3 linked regions of the Homo sapiens genome follow. The protein of the gene in region 1 interacts with the protein of each later gene in a pairwise test. Each region holds a gene or a part of one and is shown in the gene's direction. Other genes may lie near its edges.

Region 1 (3,500 bases):
CATTTTAAATAGTATTTATTTGGGTTGGAATTATTTCTATGCATTGACTCATCTTCCTGGGTTTCATTAGCTGTACGCATTGTACTTCCTTCCTTACCACTATTTATCTCGAATTCTTGAGATTAAAGTGCAGATTAAATCTAAACTTTATCTGGTGAAGTTATTAGTTCTTACAAGTAGCAAGCAAACGGTAAACTAAATAGGATCACCTAATTGTACCAGATTTTAAAAAAAAAAAACCCTGATTCTCCTGATTCTCTCTACAAAATGCTAACATTTAAATATGTCATTTGTAAATTGTTAACCAGAAGGAACATGGGAATGACTGTAGGTTGAGTTTGAAGTCTGAAGTTTGAAGGCTTAGTTTGCTTGTTTTCAAAGTGACAGAAGGGAGCAAAAGGTTATATAAACTCTGATGGGTACATACAAAAAAAAAAGAAGTGAAAAGTCAAAAGTCAGTCATTTTTTGGTCCTTGTTTCTTTGCTGTGGGATATTGACCTGCTACTAACTTACCTGCCAGGGTTTTGCCAGGAACAGTCAGTGTTAGATCACATTTACTTCTGCCACTTGCCACCAGCCACACTGCCTTCACCAAGTCCAAGACCCTATCACCACTGGTTGGGGCTACTTGTAGCTGTACACATGATCTCTAAGAAATGTAACTTCCCTGTTTAAAGCCCTTCCTAGTGCCCTTAAAATAAGACCCAAAGACTTCCCAAATGTGCTAGGGCCCAGCATTATTTAAGTAACCCCCAGCTGCTGTTTGCTTGGCTTGCTAAACTTTTCTACACTGGCCTTACTTCTGTTCCTTCACCACCCCAAGCACACACCCTCCTGCCTGGGACCCTCTTCACCTTTGTCCTGCTGTGCCAGCTCCTTCTTATCTCCTAGGTGTCAGCTCAATCATCATGTCCTTTGCAAATCTTCCTTGACCCCTAGACCTCCCTTTCACAAAGTACCTTGAGTTTACACTTTTGATGAGTGTCTTATGTCTACTGTAATACTATGTCCCAATGAAGATGTACTTGCAATCATAATACGCAGTATTGGGTTAAAAGCATTAGTTTGCTGTAGGTATGTTAGGAGCACTTTCCCCATGTGATTGATCAATTAATTAAAAAATGGCTAAAGTGGGTAACCTTAAATGATGGTGTAAATATACCTTAAACATTTTATATTTTCATTGAAAACACAAGTGTACTTGACACCTTTTGACGTAGAGCAGAGGCTTTTCTTCTTCGAATATGGGGTCACCAGTAGAAGGTCTCTGGTGTATTTCCTGCATAAACTATGCTCCAGTGCAACATCTACAATAATTACTTTCCTTATTTTTGAAGTGGACCATATCTCGACATTTATTAATCAATCTGAATGTGTAAAACCTTTAGATTTTTATGAATTCCTCCTCAAGCTTTATAGTCAACTATATGAGTGGATTGCCCTCTGTGGATTTGATAGCAATTTTTTAAATGATTCATGTTTCAACTTGTTAAAAACATTTAATTTAGTTAAAAACCAAACAAAAAAGAGCTTTGTTTCTTTTCACATTCATTTCTCAGTTTAGATCATCTTTAATTAAATATAAATGTAAGAAAGTTGGAAAATGCAAAGAAATGACTCGTTGTAAGCACATAACTCACGTGGGGGGAACAGACATGGGTGGGCACACTAGCAAACACCTGCCAGCTGCATGTGGACCCAGGTGGGCACCGGACTGTTTTAAACACAGGAGAGGGCCCGTTGTCTAACTGGTGAGTTGGTTGAGTGGAAGCTGGTTGAGAACTTTTACTGCAAACCATTTACAGTAGACCACAATTTTATAGCCCTGTTTGGCACTTTTTCATATCACTGGGAGCCTGAAGAAATAGAAGTGGGTTGGATCTCTTTCAGCCTCTGAAAAGCCTGCCATTCCCCCATCTAAAAAGCCCTTTCCCCATTCTCTCACTCTGTCTCATCATGTATGTAATATGTATCATCATTAAGTGATCTCATTTTATATTGTTTCCTTGAATATTTCCTGTAACCCCCCTGCCTGATTCCACTAGAATGTAAGCTCCATGACGGCCAAGCCTCTGGCTGCACTGTGCCCCGTGTGTCCCCAGCATCCTGGTGGGGCTCGATACACAGAGAGCTCATAAGTAGCATTTGAATACATGAATCAAAGAATGGCTCAGTTTACTGCAGCCTTTTTGCAGATGCAAAAGATGATCTTTTAGAAAGCAGAAACAGGGGGTCTGGTGCATGAGATCTTTTTCTCAACGTGACTATGCTGTGCAGACCTTCATGTGGTGTCTTGTGAAAGACTTTGACCACTGTGTGGACTTCCCTTCAGTGTATCTCTCAGAGTGCAAGACTGGGAATGGAAAGAACTACAGAGGGACGATGTCCAAAACAAAAAATGGCATCACCTGTCAAAAATGGAGTTCCACTTCTCCCCACAGACCTAGGTAAGACATTCCCTTTCATCTTTGTGTTCATCTACTGTAAAGTTGTCCCTCTGTGTCTGTGAGGGATTGGTTCCAGGACCCCTGTGGCTACCAAAATCCATGCTTCTCAAGTCCCTTATATAAAATGGTGCAGTATTTGCATATAACCTACATACCTTCTCTTGTATAATCCCTAATATAATGTAAATGCTATTTAATCGTTGTTATACTGTATTGTTTTTATTTGTATTATGTTTTATTGTCATATTGTTATTTTCTGTCATCTTTTTCAAGTCTTTTCCATCCACAGTTGGTTGAATTTGTGGATCTGGAACCCATGGATACAGAGGGCCAACTGTATTTAGGATAATTTCATCACTTTTAATTCAAACCACAATATGTGAATAAGCAGATAGAAAGAATCTTTTTGATGTCGATGTTCAACTATTTTTGGCACCATAGTAGAACATGGTTGCTTTCTATTTTTTCTTGGATATGGAGGTTTCTTGAAGACCTAGAACATAGAAGAATGCCTAGTTTAAAAAAAATCAATGAAACTATGAGTTTTAGGCCAAATCTGAGAAAAGATCAAAGATGACTATGTTTGGGACTGAAGTAAGCATATCAGGTTAGAACTCTCATCACATGTTCGACTCAAATTGTGGAGCAAAAGAGTAAATAAGATATAAAAATGAAAATGAAGATACGTGAAATTCAAATGTTGCAACTTGCCTATTATTTATTTTAGTGCATTTTTTTGTACTTTTCCCAGTTTGGTGTTAGGTGGCATTAAGTTCTCAGTAATGACGCTTATCAAATAGGAACTTAGTGCTTGTTACTCACCTTTATCCATTCCCCCAACACTCAACAAATTGCCTTTGCTATATCCCTATGAGATGAGCAGATCAAATATTCCCCGTGAGTTAATGAAAACTGATTCAACCAAATGGCAAAGTCAGAGACTATCGGGGGCCATGGAGACACTCTGGGCCATTTTTATGAGGTAGTCTAGGCTCATCTTTATGAGGGAACTGAGGTCTCGGGGGGTGGGGGTTATCCCAAATAGGTTCACA
Region 2 (3,500 bases), on another chromosome or scaffold:
TGTACAAAAAGCCAGACATATTTAATGTGTACAACTCAGTGAGTTTAGAGATAAGCATACACTTGTGAAATCACCACAATCAATGCTGTAAAACTATCCATCACCTCCAAAAGTTTCCCCCTGCTTTATTTATCTATCCATTCATTCATTCATTCATTCATTTTTTTTGTAGTAAGAACACAACATAAGTTCTGTCTTCTTAGCAAATGTTTATACAATACAGTATTGTTAACTAGAAGTACTATTACCATACAGATGTCTGGGACTTACTTATCTTGCATAACTGAACTTCATACAGTGAATCACTTTATGTGGCCCAGAAGTTTTTCCTGAAAAGGAAACTTTTGTTTTGGCTGCATTGTAAAATTACAGGTTACAGTATATAGTTTTCTTTTTGCCACTCCAGGATTGTAATTTTTAAAGCTCAATTTGGAGTTGGAGGAGATGATGTCTCTTCCTCTCTAACATTCTGTGAGAGCACTTTTGTCTGGCCGGGGTGATGAGGGAAGGGGTCAAGTTTAATATGAACCTTAAAGAATCAGCAGCCTGTGACCCACAATTTTGTCTAGTTAAGATTTGATAATTGTATCAATAAAATCTACAATAAGGAATAATTATACTAATACTTATTTTTTAATGGAGGGCAAAAATAATTTAAATTATTAAACATTAAGGAAGAGGTAGAGGAACTAAGAAAAATCACTGGATTTCACAGCCAACAGGAAGAGCCAACAAAGTTGGAATCTATTTGCTAAAGTTTCAGTAGCAATATACTTGAGTGATTTAATTTCTGTGTGTGAAGTTCTGGGAAATTACATATGGCACAATAAGGTGCATATATTATGCATGTATATGTACATATTTTTAAGCAAGGATCTTTACATAAAACCAAGTACACTGTACTTAAGGGAATTTTTTTTCAGGGGTATTTTTTTCTTTTCAGTTCTCTTTTAGTCATTGTCTTTAGAACCTTACTGCCTAGGGGAGCATGTATGCCTTACTCTGGGGTTTTCTTTGCTTCTGTTTTGATTTTTCCCTGTTTTCTGTTTCTCTCCATCTATTCTTACCTACTGTTTTTTTACACACTTATATTTTTCAGGCCTATGTTGTAAAAAGAGTTTTAAGTACTCTAAGTTTTTTTGGAGTAATAAGAGTTTGAATACGAGCAGACTTTCAAACAAGGTAAAACTGATGGTGACTGAATAGTTACTAAAGGAAATGTATAGATATTGTGTTTATGTAGGAAATTTATCTTGAAATTTTAATGGTGTGCAGAAATATGCCATATATTATATATTGCCATTTCATTTGTTACTTTGACACTTGTGGTTCATATCATTAAAAATTATTCTCAGCCTGACAGAGAGAAGTTTAATTTCTTAAACATCCTTTCTGCTTTACCAGATCAAACTCAGCCTTTTAGTAGAGTAATATCAATAATAGTAATGCTGTAATTGTGGACATCTGCATTTCAGTCAAGTATGTTAAATAAAGCATAAATATATTAGTAAAATTTAAAGTAATCAAAATAACTAAAAACAATATTTGAAGATTCTAATACATAATCTAGCTAAGATTTTGTCATGGTATGTATTAAATTCTTTCTCTGGCATAATTGTATAGATGGGGATTTGTTTTTGTTTTTTATTTCTCTAATACATTTAAGATTTTAAAACATACCAAAATTTATATTTAGGGAGAAATAAGGTGACTTATAATTTTTATTTTTAAATTGTTATCTGTCAAAAAGCCAAATATTGGAAAAAATTAATAACTATCTCTATTTTTATAGATCCACTCAGCAGGGGATTTCACATTTTCTTAACCAGGGCCCTCAGTAAGAAGTACATTTTATATTGTGACTTAGTGCACACATAGGAATAAATACATCTAGCCGAAATCAACATTTCATAAGACAGTAAACTTGCTATGTTGCTTGTATTACTTTTTCTATTTATTTTTTTCTATTTTATTTCGTTGTTTTTAAGTGCTTTTCATGACCCACCAAATTGATTTTATCACACATAGCTTGGAAACTGCTATCCTAGGACATTTTTACTCTAAGAAAACTAAATGTAACTATCTGTTTAATATTTCATCTTCTCTCTCCTGCTTTTCTGGTTCCCAGCAATGCTGTGTAAGATTACGAAAATGAAGTACTTCCCAATGTGAGTTAGTAAATACTACCTGTAATTCAGAGAAAGATAGCATTTAGTCACTGAACAAAAAGATATAGCATATCTTTTGAGAAAGCATTTATCTCTGTTGTGCATATTAGAAATATGAGAATGTATTTCTCATGTAATGTTGTTCATTCTAGTAATTCAAGATAACTTTTGCCTTGTGAAAACTTAGAACAGAGAAAGGGAGGTTGTGGTAGTATTCAGACTTGAATACATGAGTGCGGGATTATCTATTTCAAGAACAGTTGCTGAGGAGGTTCAGAAAACTCAAAATAGAGGTCTGCTGCATCTATCCAGGATAACACTGATTCACCTCTCCCTGTAAGACAGTAAAACTATAAATATCTTAAAATCACTTAGTAAAGTTACCCAAGAGAAACATTGAAAAACCTTTATTTAAAACATTTAGGAGTGTTCTCATGCTTTCCTGACCCTTAGAAATTAATAATTCAAATGTGGAAATACTATATTAATAATTCAATGCATATTAGTATTTTCTCTACTAAGTATCTTTACAGCTCTCTCTCTGTAAATGAAATCTTAGAGTATTTTAAGAGACAGGGTCTTGTTCTGTTGCCCAGGCTGGAGTGCAGCGGCGCCATCAGAGCTTACTGCAGCCTCTAACTCCTGGGCTCAAGCAACCCTTCTGCCTCAGCCATCTGAATAGCTAGGACTACAGAGCAGGCACCACCGCATCCAAGTAATTCTTTAAAAATTTTTTCTAGAGATGGGATCTTGTTATTTTGCCCAGGCTGGTCTCAAACTCCTGGCCTCAAGTGTTCCGACTACCTCAACTGCCCAAAGCACTGGGATTACAGGCCTGAGCCACTGCCCCTGGTCCTAAATTAATTCATCTTTAGGTTTCCAATGAACATTATGAATACTGTATGTATTATAATTCTCGAATGGAGTATTTTATTGTATATACTTATCTTCTCATCCATGAAGACAGCGAATGTTAATCTCATTAAAGCTGAGATCCAGCACTTATTAGTTATGTAATTAGGAGCAAGTTGACATTCCTTGCATTTTAATTTCCTCATTTGTAATATGAGTATGATGTAGTAACTCGTGAGATAACGAACGTAAAGTGTTTCTTTACATAGTGAACCTAAAATATTAATAATAAAGTTTCACCAAGAATCACAGAAATAGGAATGAAACCCAGCCTTTTATCTGTATACTGCCACGTGACTTCTTAGGAATTAGGCTCAATTGTCTTACTATATTGAGATGAATTATATACCTAGTATAGTATAACATTTCTGTTTTTCCCATTGCTTTCTCCTCTGTGTTTTAAGTGCTCTAACACTACGT
Region 3 (3,500 bases), on another chromosome or scaffold:
TCTTCAGTCAAATATATGTCGCAAATATTTTTTCTCATCAGTGACTTTGCCTTTTCATTTTTTAAGGGTGCCTTTTGAAGAGCAGCTGTTTTTAATTTTGATGAAGTCCAATTTGTCAGTTATTTGGTGGTTAGTGATTTGGGGGTTTCAGCTAAGAAATCTTTGCCTTGTCTAGAGTTGTAAAGATTTTTCCTTTAGATCCAACAGGCCTGCCCACTCCTCTGTATTTGGAGCCATTCTGAGACATCTTCATTATTTACTCCTTCCTTTTTCCTAATGTCTCCTAGTTATATCTGTAGCCAGGGGCCCAGATTCTGTTATGATCTAACAGTCCTCTAATGCTTCTCTCCCATTATTTCTCTGCACTAAAGCTCATCACCAACAAAATTGTTGTACTGTTGGTGCCAATGAAAACCATCACCTCCTGAGTTGTTTTCATACCAGTTCTATCTAAAAATGTTCTTTTTCTTCCTTTAAGTTTTAGAGAAAAAAACAGCCTTAGGGTCTGAGCTCATTCATTCATTTATTTGTTCCTTTTCAACAGAAAATGTGTCTGCCCACCATGGACCCAGACACTGGCAGTTGGGCGTGCACAGCATAGCTGGGCCCTGTCCTGTGTATTTCCAGTCTGGTGTAGAAGGTGGAACATGCCATTATGGGTGTGATCTGTGTGGCAGTTGTGAGGTGGACGATCTGCCACATGCCTTTCCCTCTGAATTCTGAATCAATTGAGAAATTAATATTAGAGGCCAATGGAGTCAAAGGCTCAGACTTACTGCTGGTAAAGCTAGACTAGAGAATGTGGTTTTCACCCAAGGCCACACCAGTGTTCCTATGCCTCCTACATCTCATTAAACTTGCCACTAGGTAATAGGCAAAGCAGCTGCATAGATACACGCCTCCCTTCCTCGGGATGGGCAGGGGATGGTTACTGCAAGAAGCAGCCAGAAACCTAGAAGGGAGGCCACATACTTGCAGGCAGGCAGGTCCCAAAAGAGCGAGCCAAGGTCAGGCCAGGCTCCTCTCATCACACGTGCCTGAATCCCCATCTCTCCAAACAGATAAGTGAGTTAGGGTAAGGAGAAGGGAAATAGGGGAGTAGAGGCATTCTCCCCCATGACTTCTGCAGGAGAAGTTTTGATTTTATAAACTCAAGCAGCAACTGGCCAAACGGTTTCAAAAACAAAGGTTGTAAAAATTCTTTAGAAAATTTTATGTTAAAAAAGTTCTATTTGATGTTGTCTGTGAGTGCCTGGTCTATGGAGAGGCCTTCAAAAGCCAAGGCACTTCTCAAAATGCTCAAATTGTGGCCCATGGGCCAGCTGCTATTTGTCAGCAGTGAACAACAAAATTGGGAGCTCATGCGAGGATGAAAATCAGTTGCATTGCGAAGAATGCTGTTAGTTGAGCTGACATTTGTGTTTTGTAGCAAGACTTTCTCAATGAATGAAGCCAAGTGCTGATATACGTACATTCTGGCACACATCTCTTACCTAGCCATGCGCTGGCACTTTGAGTAGCACTGGCCTCATGCCTCTGGACATCTCACTCCCCGCCTCCCCTGGCAGGGCGGTGATGGGTAGTAGACAGCTGGTGTGCTGGACATGGTGAACATGACCCTTGGCCTCTTCCTGCCCAGGTGATCGCCATGATCAAAGGCCTGCAGGTGCTCATGGGCAGGATGGAGAGCGTCTTCAACCAGGCCATCAGGAACACCATCTACGCGGCATTGCAGGACTTCGCCCAGGTGACGCTGCGTGAGCCCCTGCGGCAGGCGGTACGGAAGAAGAAGAATGTCCTCATCAGGTGGGTTTTCAGATGCCTTCAGGAGCATATCAGACATAAGCATGCCAGGTACCCATCAGAGAGGATGTCCTGGCTCAGCCACTGAACACACATGGGTCCTTCCAGCAAGCTCCAGAGGGCTCTTTAGGAGATTGGGCATTTGGGATGAATTAAGCCTTCATCTCTAGAAGTCCATATCCACTGCTATCTAGCTGTGTGAACTTGGTCAGGTTGCTGACCTTCTCCAAACCTCAGTTTTCCTCATTTGTAAAATGGGGATTATAATGCTACCTGCTGCCTGTTGGGATGATGAAATGAGATGGTCCATATATAGACCTAAGCACATGCAGCATGGAGTAAGTATGCAGCACATCTAAGCTATTATGAAAACTAAGCACACACAGATTTCATAAGACCGGTGAGACTCCCCTATAACCAGAAAGGAAATACAGACCTCTTGCCTCACACAAGTTCTGTCTCACTCGATGGGCTCAGAGCTGAGTTCTCAGACATCCCTTGGACATCAGAACCATGTAGGACACTTGTTTAAACACAGATTCCTGGACTGTACCTTAAATCTGTTAAACCAGAGTTTTGGAATTGGGGCAGAAATGAGCATGCTTTACAAGCACCCCAAGAATTCAAATGTGGGTGTTCCTGGGACACCACGGGCCCTAGAAACACAAGCTTGTAGTGACGTTTTCCCATGGTGAAACCTGGTCTAAGTCTTAGTTCTTCCTTCCCCAGCGTCCTACAGGCAATTCGAAAGACCATCTGTGACTGGGAGGGAGGGCGAGAGCCCCCTAATGACCCATGCTTGAGAGGGGAGAAGGACCCCAAAGGTGGATTTGATATCAAGGTGCCCCGGCGTGCTGTGGGGCCATCCAGCACACAGGTAAGCGGCTCCAGGCACAGGCCAGCTGCGTTGACTCAGAGGCCAGCCGGGCTATGGTAGATCATCATGGCTGGCCATGGGCAGTGGGACTGGGAGCCGTCGGTCAGGAGGGGCAGGGTTGAGTGGCTGCTCCGGTCTTATTCTGCCATCTTGTTTTGATATAGGAAGGAGGACCACTGGCTTAAGATTCAGGAGACCTGGATTCTAGTCCTAGATACCTGTGTGACCTCGGGCACTTTACAGATCTCTCTGTGCCTCAGTTGTTTAAACTGGCTAATGGGGATAATACCACCACATCCACCTTGCCTGGCTATCTTCTAGTCCTATGAAGTATAGATTCCAAAGTGGAGGAGGAGGTTAAAGTGGAATCTATCTGCATGCATCTATGCTGCCCCTCTTTAATAAGTCCTGGCCCTTTCCCCTAAAAGTTCTGCCTCTGACTTGCTGTGTGATCTTGGGCAAGCACCTTGAGCTTTCTGAGCTCTGATTATCTTCTCTGTAAAATGAAAACTTTGGATGAGATTGTGTTACTAACAAAATATTCCTTAGTTCCACATCCTTCCAAAAGTGCAAGTATTGAAAGCCCTTGTCCCCTTAGAGGAAGTCTAGTATTTGGAAACACTCAGAGTTGCCAGCCAGAGCTTCTGCACAAGAGGTCGCCCGTGGCTTATCCAGAGCAGTCATAACGTTACAGAAAAAAAAGTCAATAATCTGGGCATCTTCGTTAAATCCCTGCTACCTACTTAAGGATAGGTAGTTTCTGGTAATATTTTTGATGTACTGGAAAAAGCAGATGGTTCTCATTGCAAGTTTAAGGGTC

Evidence for each region. Proteins that work in one complex are often made in the same cells at the same time.
Region 2: the proteins of PLG (region 1) and RAP2A interact in a two-hybrid assay, tested with the Homo sapiens proteins (one study listed by BioGRID and IntAct).
Region 3: the proteins of PLG (region 1) and CYFIP2 interact in a two-hybrid assay, tested with the Homo sapiens proteins (one large-scale study listed by BioGRID and IntAct).

What each region holds. Positions count from the first base shown.
Region 1 is NC_000006.12:160,708,744-160,712,243, forward strand, and holds part of PLG (plasminogen isoform 1 precursor), read left to right. Parts: intron 1-2,333; coding exon 2,334-2,448; coding exon of another isoform or gene 2,449-2,452; exon of another isoform or gene 2,453-3,129; intron 3,130-3,500. UniProt on the Homo sapiens protein: Plasmin dissolves the fibrin of blood clots and acts as a proteolytic factor in a variety of other processes including embryonic development, tissue remodeling, tumor invasion, and inflammation. In ovulation, weakens the walls of the Graafian follicle.
Region 2 is NC_000013.11:97,440,669-97,444,168, forward strand, and holds part of RAP2A (ras-related protein Rap-2a), read left to right. Parts: intron 1-3,500. UniProt on the Homo sapiens protein: Small GTP-binding protein which cycles between a GDP-bound inactive and a GTP-bound active form. In its active form interacts with and regulates several effectors including MAP4K4, MINK1 and TNIK.
Region 3 is NC_000005.10:157,318,123-157,321,622, forward strand, and holds part of CYFIP2 (cytoplasmic FMR1-interacting protein 2), read left to right. Parts: intron 1-1,639; coding exon 1,640-1,806; intron 1,807-2,532; coding exon 2,533-2,680; intron 2,681-3,500. UniProt on the Homo sapiens protein: Involved in T-cell adhesion and p53/TP53-dependent induction of apoptosis. Does not bind RNA. As component of the WAVE1 complex, required for BDNF-NTRK2 endocytic trafficking and signaling from early endosomes.